Linked DNA regions of Homo sapiens. The protein of the gene in region 1 purifies or fractionates together with the protein of each later gene. This does not show direct contact. Each region holds a gene or a part of one and is shown on either strand. Other genes may lie near its edges. The genes, in order: SNX24, MOB4 and STRN.

Region 1 (3,500 bases):
CTTAATACCTGTGTGACCTTAGGTGAGTTATTGAACATCTCTGTCTCTCTCTTTCCTCAACTGTGAAATGGATTTCATAATAGTATCTACCTTATAGGCTGTTTTAAAAATTGGGGAGACAAGCGAATGAACACACAAACTATATCTTAGAAAATCTCTAATACATGAATATCCAGTTATTTCTGGTTGATGACACTTGATTTTTTTAGTGCATGCCTTTCCCCAACATGAAGTAATGGTTTTTCATGAAATATATCTTTGAAAGCGTGTGATAGGCCTTACACATGTATATTTAGAGCCCAATAAAAAACAATAATTTAGCTAAGTTAATTTTAATTCTAAATGTATTTCTCCCACATAGAAGGATATTAAAATCAATTGCCATAAATAGAGCTGTTAATTTTCTAAAAGATACTCAAATAGGACATATTACATGACGGTGGCAGACATGCCTTTATTCTTTGCCACTCACAATATAGAAGTCGATTTGAAGGTCAGTGAAATTACATTGTAAGTATATTTAGCTTAAAAGGATTCAACTAAATAAGTTAAGCAAAAAAGACATAAAGGAAAATAACATTACATACTATGGGTAACTCTACTGCGCTGGTAACATGTTAAGCAGTGACAAGAACAGGGCAAGGAGAAAAATACAGCAGGGCATGGGCTGGAGAGGGCCCAGAGACAGGGAAGTGAGGGAAGAATTTGAGTGATGGTGCCATTTGGGTGATGACTTGCAGGAAGGAACAAAGCAGCCCGCTGGGAGGGTGTCCGGGAGAAGGGCATTCCTGGCAGAGGGAACAGCAAGTGCTGAGGCTCTGTATGTATGTCCACCAAGAGCTGAACATATGCTAGATGCTGGGGATTTAGAGGACAAAGCCAAAGAACAAAGATAAGATAGTCTGTGACCATTACTATGAAGGAAGCAAATAGGGTTCTCTGACAAAAAGTGAATGGGATGGAGGTGTTTTAAAGCAAGGTCCACCAACTAGCGATCAGAAATAACATAATCAGGGTTTTGGGTTGTTTTCTCATCCGTTCCACTCTACTTTAAACTGTGGATTTTGGCTTCATCATATGCATGATTTACTACAATGTCCATTATTGCCAGCATTACTCAGTAAACTGTCCTTGACTTTGATTCTCATTGAGAGGTGATGAGAAGGAAGGTGATTTAGGGCAGGTTTTGCTGTTATTTTTGTTGGTTTTTGCTTATTTAATGAACATGTATTGTGAATGGGTAGAGGGGCTCGTGGAGAGGGAGAATCAGCACAGGCTCTCTGAAGCCGTGGCATTCAATGTGAGCCCTGGAAGATGAGAGGCAGCCGGCTATGGATGGAGAAAACAAGGCTCACGGTGGAGGAAACAGCACATCTGAGGCCCAGAAAGAATTCCAGGGTGGCTAGGGCAAAGTGTATGAGGAGGTCCAGTAGGAACATGAGCCTGGGGCAGGCCACAGAGGGCCTTGCAAACAAACCACAGGTAAGAGTCTGGAGCTCCCAGGACAGAGTTGAGATGGAGATACAATATTGTGACTCAGGTGTATACACGTGGTAGGCAGGCCACACACAAGGAGATTATCTGAAAGGAAGTGTAGTGAGAAGAGGAGAGGGTCTATGACAGCATTCTGGTCAGCTGCTAGAGAGTGGAAGGAAGTGGGAAAGCCAAGGGGAGACACTGTTTGAAGGAGGAGAAACAGATCAACATGTCTAAAGTCCATGAGAGGCCAAGGAAGATGAGGACTGAAAAATATCCATGGGCTTCAGCCACACTGAAATCACTGGGGACTTTGGCAAGAGTTGTTTTGAGTTTCCCAGGAAAATCAAAACAAAGACCAAAAGGCAAATGCTTTTCAATCTGTTAAGAGAGTACTCTCCTGATTTCTAATGTTAAAAGCTAAGGGATATTTGATTATTAGTATTTTATAAGAGGATAATGCTTAAATGTCAGATCTTTGAAGACAGACACTCCTCTGACTTTGTAGGGGGCGGGGTCAGTACATCTGTGAAGAAATTTCCATACGCAATATCCTCTGGAATAATAACCTTAATATCTTGCTAAGAGGCATCATAACAAAAATGTGATGCAAGTAAAGTTTCTCTTTAAATTAAATGCTAAAGATTTGCAAGAATATATCATTAGTATAACACTTCTAAGATCACAAGAATCTGATTCGTGAAACTGGATTGGTCAAAATTCCAAGAAAACAGATCTGGTGACTGGTCCTTCCATACCTCCCATCCCATCCATCAAACCTGTGATCCATTTATTCTCAAACAGGAGTTCCCTTATTTTGCAAGTCTTCATCCATATTACCATGCTACCAATGATACATACGTTTTACTCTTTCCAATTCAAGACATTTACCCCTGATGTTTCTTCCCAGAAAGTTCCTCCTGTTCTTCACTGTCCAAGCCAGGCATAGAGCACATGGTAGGCACTGCTCAATAAGCTGTATGAATTGGATTTAAAGGTCATAAAATATCTTCCCTCTTCTATCAAGTATCTTGGCTATTCTAGTCCACAGTAACCATTTCACTGTCTACACTTCTGCAGGAATTTCAGTCAGATGCATGACATATCTGAGCATAAACAATACATGGAAAAAGTGCTTGTGGAGCCATTTTTCAAAGATAATAAGAATAATTTATAAAACTATCTATTTAATCTATATTAGATTGCATTATGAATATTTGTTAAATATGATATTTTAACATGACATCAACTAACATGTATATTTGTTAAACATAAGAAGCAAACGTTACAGAGAGAAAGTTATTCTTCACTGCGAGGATCTTATAGGAAAAAGAATATGAGGTCATATTCCTATACAGCAAAGGCAGCTCACTCTGATCGGGGTGCTACTAGGAAGGGTCCCTCAACCCTTCCTAGGGAGGAGCAGGGCTGCGTCCTGGCCACCCTTCTTCAAACTGACAGCTAAGTGGGTGATGTGAGTACGTGTATCCTTGCTATAGAGAGCAGTTCCCTTTCTCCTGCTCATAAGGTTTTATTGTCAGAAACAGGGAGGGTTTCAATGGATTATTTATCTATTACTATTTAGTGACTCCCAGAAACAAGATTCACTATATGCAAAGAGCACAGAAGGAATACATAGGCAACAAGAGGTCCACCCATCAACCATCTGAGAGTGGACAAGTCAGGGACTTCCCTGGACCCCAATTTTCTCATTCAGTCAATGATAATATCTGCCCTGCTTAGTTCACAAGGTTGTTAAGGAAATTAAATGAGATAATGTATGCAAATGAGCTCATAAAGAGATGCATAACAGAACACTTTGAGAGGGACTCTGATGAATTTAAATTTCTTTGCACAGAGAAAAGACTCAGTCGAAAATATTGATTACAATTATACTTAGATCAATTAATTGTATTTAAAATATGCAACTTTTAAAAATATATAGTTTGCCATCAAAGATGCTGCAATGTATATACACATAGTTTCGGGGAAGAGGCTTTTTTTTGAGACGGAGTCTCGCTCTG
Region 2 (3,736 bases), on another chromosome or scaffold:
CTGAAAATGCAAATACATAAATAAAAAGTCATATCTATTCTTCACAGCAATTTTTAGAATATTAGCTGCAAAAAGAGAATCCCATCAGTATCATCCCTCCTCCCTCATTACCATTCTCAAAACCACCTAAACTGACAATGACACATTTCTTCTAAAGGCTTACAGATTAAAAATAGAAAACCAATAACCCTCATAACATTCAATACCAGAGTTAAGTGAGCTGATCATTCTCTTATATACTAGAAATTAGTACAATTTTTCAGGGAAGTAATTTGGAAATATTTACCAAGACTTTTAGGAAGTGTATACTTTTCGACTAAGTCATTCTTCTAAGAATCTATTGTAATGAAATAATCAGATCTGCATGCAGATAAATGTATAAAGATGTTCACAGGAGCTATATATGCATATGAGAAAATTTCTGAATTGTAGAAAAATTCAGCAACTGGAGGGTAATAAAATGTTGGTACATAGAAACATACAAAGAAATTACAGCAGGGCGCAGTGGCTCAGGCCTGTAATCCCAACACTTTGGGAGGCCGAGGCAGGTGAATCACTTGAGGTCAGGAGTTCAAGACCATCCTGGCCAAAATGGTGAAACTCCATCGCCACAAAAATACAAAAATTAGCCGGGCATAATAGCGGGTGCCTGCAATCTCAGCTATTCAGGAGGCTGAGGAGGGAGAACTGCTTGAACCTGGGAGTCGGAGGTTGCAGTGAGCCAAGATCACACTACTGCACTCCAGCCTGGGAAACAGAGTAAGGCTCCATCTCAAAAAAAAAAAAAAAAAAATTACATTACAATTGCACTGAGGCCATCAGTTTTAGACAGCTATTTGATAAAAAGACAATCTTCTATGTCACAAAGGTAGTTTTACAGCTGTCAAAACACTGAACGTGTTCCCTCCTAAAGTCCTACCTATTAATATTTAGTTCAATGTATCAGGTTAGATAAATCAATACTATGTTTCCCCATCAGAAAAATTGAATCATTTTGGTTCCCAAAACAATGCAAAGCTAACACCTATATAATCAGAAGACAAAAAAAAATCCCCCCAAAAAAGAAAAAAACAGGATATATGTGAACAAATTTGGTGGAAAAACTTCATTTACTTACTTACTGCACATTGTAACAGAGGAAAACAAAAAGGCAAGGGTCAAATTTTCAGTTGTTTGTAACTGCATTTCCTTTCCAGATGCCTAATAATGCTGTCCTTAGATTACAAAAATAACATTATTTCTAAATCACCGTATCACCCTCTACTGTCCCCTATCAAGTAGACTGCATGTTATGTGTTTTTTAGTTGTTTTCCACCAAGTGGTAATAAAGACTGGTTGTGGTAAGTTTCTTACCCAACCCTTTTATAGCCAAAAGCAAAATTAAGTTGATTCAGCAGGGCTGTGGGTATAATCTGTGGCAAATAATGCAAAACTCACAACTTCAAGTTAATTTAATACAGGGCTAACATGTACACAGTTGTGCAGCTGAAGAGACCAACCAGAGCTGGAATCCAGCCTACATTCCAGTCACCACGCATGTATCCGGACATAAAGGAGTACTTTTTCCTAATCATTAAGACTCAATATGAGCTAGTGGGAGATATGACTGAAGTCATGACCCAATCTAAATTAACATCATTATATAATCAACTGCATTAACTAAAAATGGCAAGTATACAGCCTCAAATCAATAAAGGATGTATGCAAAAAAAAAAAAAAACCTCTTCCTGGTCAACTAATAAAATGTACACAATACAATAAAGAGATAAAAGAATATATACGATAGTTAATATACAACCCAGACCAAAAAGTGGCTAGTAGAAAAAAATAACAAAAGTAAAAATAGCACCAGAACAAATGAAATACTTGTGAGAAATATTTCATGTAAAGTTTTATGTAATGTTTTATATAATGTTTCATAGAATAAGTTAAATAGGGAGATAAATGTTTTCTTAGATCTGAAAAAAAAAAAACCCTTGTAACACTAAAATCAGCCCCTATTTGTTAGGAATTATGCTTGTAATGGAAAAAACGGCCAAGTGTGGTGGCACACGCCTGTAATCCCAGCACTTTGGGAGGCCAAGGTGGGCAGATCGTGAGGTCAGGAGATCAAGACCATCCTGACCAACATGGTGAAACCCCATCTCTACTAAAAATACAAAAATTAGCTGGGCATGGTGGCGTGTGCCTGTAGTCCCAGCTACTTGGGAGGCTGAGGCAGGAGAATCGCTTGAACCCATGTGGCGGAGGTTGCAATGAGCCGAGATCACACCACTGCACTCCAGCCTGGTGACAAAGCGAGACTCGAGACTCTTGTCTCAAGAAAAAAAACATAAGAAAGCAGTTATTTTCAAGGCTGATAAAAATAAAGCAAAGGATGTACTACACTAAAGTGCTCTCTGTCTTGGGTTGTAAAAATGGGAAAATATCTACAGACTCGTACTTTGAATTATTGTGCATTCATATATATTAAAAAGTTAGAAAATAGTCAAGTAATTTGTCTAAAAACTGGCAAAGGATACAAAGAAGTCTTAGCATCCTGAAATTGCTGAACTGTTATGACACGACATAATGTCTTAGCCATTTCTAAAGAAGCATGCAGCATCAAAAAGTAAATATTTTTAAAAAGTGCCTTGTCTACAAGTTGAGGCACACAACACAGGAAACATGGTCTAATTTATTCAGGAAAAGTCATATTTCTACTCTATTTATCTAAAAATCAACTTACAAATAATAAGCCCCAATGAACACATACTGCATTCTCTATATTTATTAATAATCTGTCAACTCATCCCAGCTCCCATTTGCACTGGAAAATTTATAATTTCAAGAAACACCTAGTAACTTCAGAATATATCTACTTTTAATGTTATCTCCACCTATCCACTAGTTATCAATTTTTTCATTCAAAGGGCATTATAAAAAGCACCAAAACTCCTTACTTCAGGATTACAATTAATCTCTATTTACCAAAGAGAAGACTGGAAGTTTGCAATAATTTACAGGTAACTTATCAGATACCAAGCCTAGACTAGGAACTGGAAGTAATCCTCTACAAAAACATAAAGTGGCCAAGTGCAGTGGCTCATGCCTGTATAATCCCAGCACTTTGGCAGGCTGAGATGGGAGGATCACTTGAGCCCAGGATTTCAGGACCAGCTTGGGCAACACAGTGAGACCCCATCTCTACAGAAACAAAGGAAAAAAAAAAGACAAGTCAGGCACGGTGGCTCACACCTGTAATCCCAGCACTTTGGGAGGCTGAGGCGGGCAGATCATGAGGTCAGGAGTTCGAGACCAGCCTGGCCAACATAGTGAAACCCCATCTCTACTAAAAATACAAAAATTAGCTGGGCATGGCTGCGCCTGTAGTCCCAGCTACTCGGGAGGCTGAGGCAGAAGAATCACTTGAACTCGGGAGGCAGAGGTTGTGGTGAGCCGGGATCACACCACTGCACTCCAGCCTAGGCAACAGAGCAAGACTCTGTCTCAAAAAAAAAAAAAAAAAAAAAAAAGACAAAAGATGACACAGTTATGCAAAAATGGGGAAACGGAAATACTATATTAGCGGTTAAGAGATACAATTAAGGAAAATCATGAAATAAGAATAAAACCCAGGCTGGCATGGTGGTAATCCCAGCACTGTGGGAGGCCAAGGTGGGTGGATTGCTTAAGCCCCGGAGTTTGAGACCAGCCTAGGCAACATGGTGAAACCTTGTCTCTACAAAAAATACAA
Region 3 (3,736 bases), on another chromosome or scaffold:
GAAGATTAATAAGGTTTCCAATTTGACTTTTATCATGAGACTGTGCTTAACCTCCCCACTTCCCTCCCTCTTCCCCTGCATACACTATCACTGCATCTCAGTTACTGCTGTTTGAGAATTTGGGGATTCCTGTAGATGTCACTTCCTGTCCATTATGAATGCCATATTTTCAGGAAAAACTGCCATCCATCATATAGTAAGATAAGTGAACAGAAGGAAGTATAGCCAAAGTGCTAAGGGACTTCAGAGAGGGAGAGGACCTCTCTGTTCACTTCCTCAGGGAGTGTGAGTTGTGGTTTCTCCAAAGATGAATTAAATTCAAATGATTTCGTATCAACGTGCTTTAAAAATATTTAGACAAATGGAAGGACAAAAGGAAGGGGGAGGAAATACTCAGTTTTTTTAAGGGGGAAAAATACGTGCTTTTAAATTTTAATTTAAAATTTTTTAACTTTATATTTGTATATTTCCAAGCTTGTTTTGATTTACTGTAGCCTGTCAGAAGAATAATAGAAACCAAGAATCATATTTTATACTGTTATCAGGTGCTATTGTTTATATATTTTACTTTCTCTGAAATCTAAGTACCTTTGTGGTTGTTTTTCTCCTGATTTTGCATTTTTACTGTTTTGTATAGATCCTTCTGTTTTACGAGGCCCTCTGCTAGGCCACACGGATGCAGTCTGGGGTTTGGCTTATAGTGCAGCACATCAGCGTTTGTTGTCCTGTTCAGCAGATGGCACTCTGCGTTTATGGAATACAACTGAGGTTGCTCCAGCACTAAGTGTATTTAATGATACTAAAGGTACATACTTTAAAAAATTATTTTGCTGAATCCTCTATAAAACAGTTTATTCTGAAAATAAGCAAGCAGATAAATGATTCCCTGAACTCTTTAAATTTAATTTGAAAGTTTTTGAAGCCACGAAAGTGTATTTGTTTGAATTTCCAACCTATATATAATTTTGTTTTGTTTTGTTTTGTTTTGTTTTGTTTTTTTTGAGACGGAGTATCACTCTGTTGCCCAGGCTGGAGTGCAGTGGCGCAATCTCGGCTCACTGCAACCTCCATCTCCCAGTTTCAAGCAATTCTCCTGCCTCAGCCTCCAGCACACACCACCACGCTCAGCTAATTTTTGTAGTTTTTTTAGTAGAGACAGGGTTTTGCTGTGTTGGCCAGGCTGGTCTGGAACTCCTGACCTCAAGTGATTCGCCTGCCTCAGCCTCCCGAAGTGCTGGGATTACAGGCATGAGCCACTGCACCCAGCCTATAATTTTTGAAAGCATAGTTTTTGGTGAAAGAACACACAGATTTTAGATTTTAAAAAATTAAGATATAATTTGTATGTAGTGAAAAACAGATATTAAGGATACATTTCAGTGAGTCTGATAGATGAGTACACCCATGTAACTCATACATCAATCAAGACATAGAATCCAGGTGTGGTGGCTCACACCTGTAATCCTAGCACTTTGGGAGGCTGAGGCAGGAGGATCACGAGAGGCCAGGAATTTGGGACCAGCTGGGCAACATAGCGAGGCCCTGTCTCTACATTTTCTTTAAAAAAAAAAAAGACTATATTTGCCCATTCTCGTACCACTATAAAGAAATACCTGAGACTGGGTAATTTGTTTAAAAAAAAAAAAGGTTTAATTGGTTGACGGTTCTGTACAGGAAGCATAGCAACTTTTCTTTGGCTTCTGGGGAGGCCTCAAGCAATTTACAATCATGGTGGAAGTCAAAGGGACAGGAGGCATGTTTTACATGGCCGGAGCAGGAGGAAGAAGGGGGTGGGACCTATTTTTAAACAACCAAATCTTGTGAGAACTCTATCACGAGAATAGCACCAAAGGGGAAAATCCACCCCATGATCCAATCACCTCCCGCCAGGCCGTATCTCCAATATTGGGGATTATGTTTGACATGAGACTTGAGTGAGGACACAGATCCAAACCGTATGAGAGATAGAACATTTCCTTTATCTCCCCAAAGTTCCTTCGTGTCTTTCCAAGTCAGTCCCCTCCTTTCCTTATTCCCAGCCAGAGGTACCCACTGTTGTGATTTCTTTCATCATAGATTAGTTTTATCTACTCAAACGTCATGTAAATGGAATAGTAAAGTATGTGTTCTTTGTATCTTGCTTTTATTCTTCATTATAATGTTTTGGAAATTCATTTGTGTTATATCAATTATTTCTTTCATTTTTATTTGATAGTATTTCATTAAGCCATAATTTGTCTATTCATTTATATCTTGATGGATATTTGGGTTGTCTCTAGTTTTTTGCTATTTTGAACAAGGCTGCTATGAACATTCATATATTTTCATTATAGGTGTGTAGAGACTTAGAATTGCTGGGCTTTCAGGTGGATGTTTATTTTACTTTATGTGAAGTCACTAAAAATTTTTCAAAAAAATTTTGTAGTTGTACCATTTTACACCTTTGACAGCAGTGTATGAGCATTCCAGTTGCTCTGCATCCTTACAAACATACAGTATTGTCAGTCTGTTTAACTTTAGCCATTCTGGTGGATGTGTAGTAGTATTTCATCATAGTTTATTTGCATTTCTTTGATGGCTAATTTTGATGAGCATTTCTTTTGTTTGCTTATTGGTTATTTGTGTATCTTCTTCTGCAGTATGCACATTTTTGAACTGTTACCTTGCTGTAGTTAGATTTTGAGCCAAATGAAAAAAATCAGATTATTATATTCACTTTATATGTTTCCTTCTATTTTTATGTTTATAAATAAGCTCTAAGTTTTCATGTATTCTAGATGGTAAATAAAAATACCTTCTGTATTCTTGAGCTATTATAACTTCTTTCCAGGCTTTGATGAGTTGTCTTCATATGGTATTTGCATGACTCTAACGATAAATAATAATTTTAAATTTTACTTTTTAATTTCTCTATTTTTGATGAGCTAACATCCCTAATAAGAGATGGGTTTTTTAAAATGAAGAATTCCCACTATGTCACTCTAAGCTTGAGGTTGGGCGGAAGCAGCAAAATTTGTAATTCATACATGTTTTCCATTTGCTCTCTAAATAAAGGCTTGCATTCCATGAATATATCAGTTGAGTAACAGGTAGAAGATCTGCTAAGCAGGTAAGGGAAATAAATAGACTAGGGCTAAAAGTTACAAAGAAATAATCTCCAATGAATAGTTATGAGCTAATTCTTATTCTAATGGTAAGCCTTGTTTACTTCTTAAGGAAACCATGCCATTTTTTGTTTTGCTCTATTTTAAGCAGATTGTCAAGTAGATGGTTTAATTGCCATTCTATTTCAATATGTTCTCTTTCAGAACTGGGAATCCCTGCCTCTGTGGATCTAGTGAGCAGTGACCCGAGCCATATGGTAGCATCATTCAGCAAGGGATATACAAGCATTTTTAACATGGAAACACAACAACGCATTCTCACTTTAGAATCCAATGTAGATACAAGTATGCATACCAATTTTAAATTGTCTGTGTTTATTTTTTTAACTTAATCAAAATTACGACTACTAGAGTCAGCTGTGAAAAATATTTGTCATTATAAAGCTTTCTGTCTCTTAACTTTCAGAACACAGTTACTTAGAAGGTTGTAATTATTTACCTTTTAAGAATTTGGGTTAAGTTTATGTACATTTATAACTATACTGTTTGAAATAGCATTTGAGCTGTTATGGGTCAAGTTTTATTTTATACTAAATGATTAATTTTCAATTCTATTTGAAGAAAGCCATATT

What was found.
Region 2: the proteins of SNX24 (region 1) and MOB4 purify together in Homo sapiens (affinity purification with mass spectrometry; 2 studies listed by BioGRID and IntAct, with this or other methods). This does not show direct contact.
Region 3: the proteins of SNX24 (region 1) and STRN purify together in Homo sapiens (affinity purification with mass spectrometry; 2 studies listed by BioGRID and IntAct, with this or other methods). This does not show direct contact.

The regions. Positions count from the first base shown.
Region 1 is NC_000005.10:123,002,613-123,006,112, reverse strand, and holds part of SNX24 (sorting nexin-24), read right to left. Parts: intron 1-3,500. UniProt on the Homo sapiens protein: May be involved in several stages of intracellular trafficking.
Region 2 is NC_000002.12:197,536,375-197,540,110, reverse strand, and holds part of MOB4 (MOB-like protein phocein), read right to left. Parts: intron 1-3,736.
Region 3 is NC_000002.12:36,854,925-36,858,660, reverse strand, and holds part of STRN (striatin), read left to right. Parts: intron 1-637; coding exon 638-805; intron 806-3,308; coding exon 3,309-3,449; intron 3,450-3,736. UniProt on the Homo sapiens protein: Calmodulin-binding scaffolding protein which is the center of the striatin-interacting phosphatase and kinase (STRIPAK) complexes.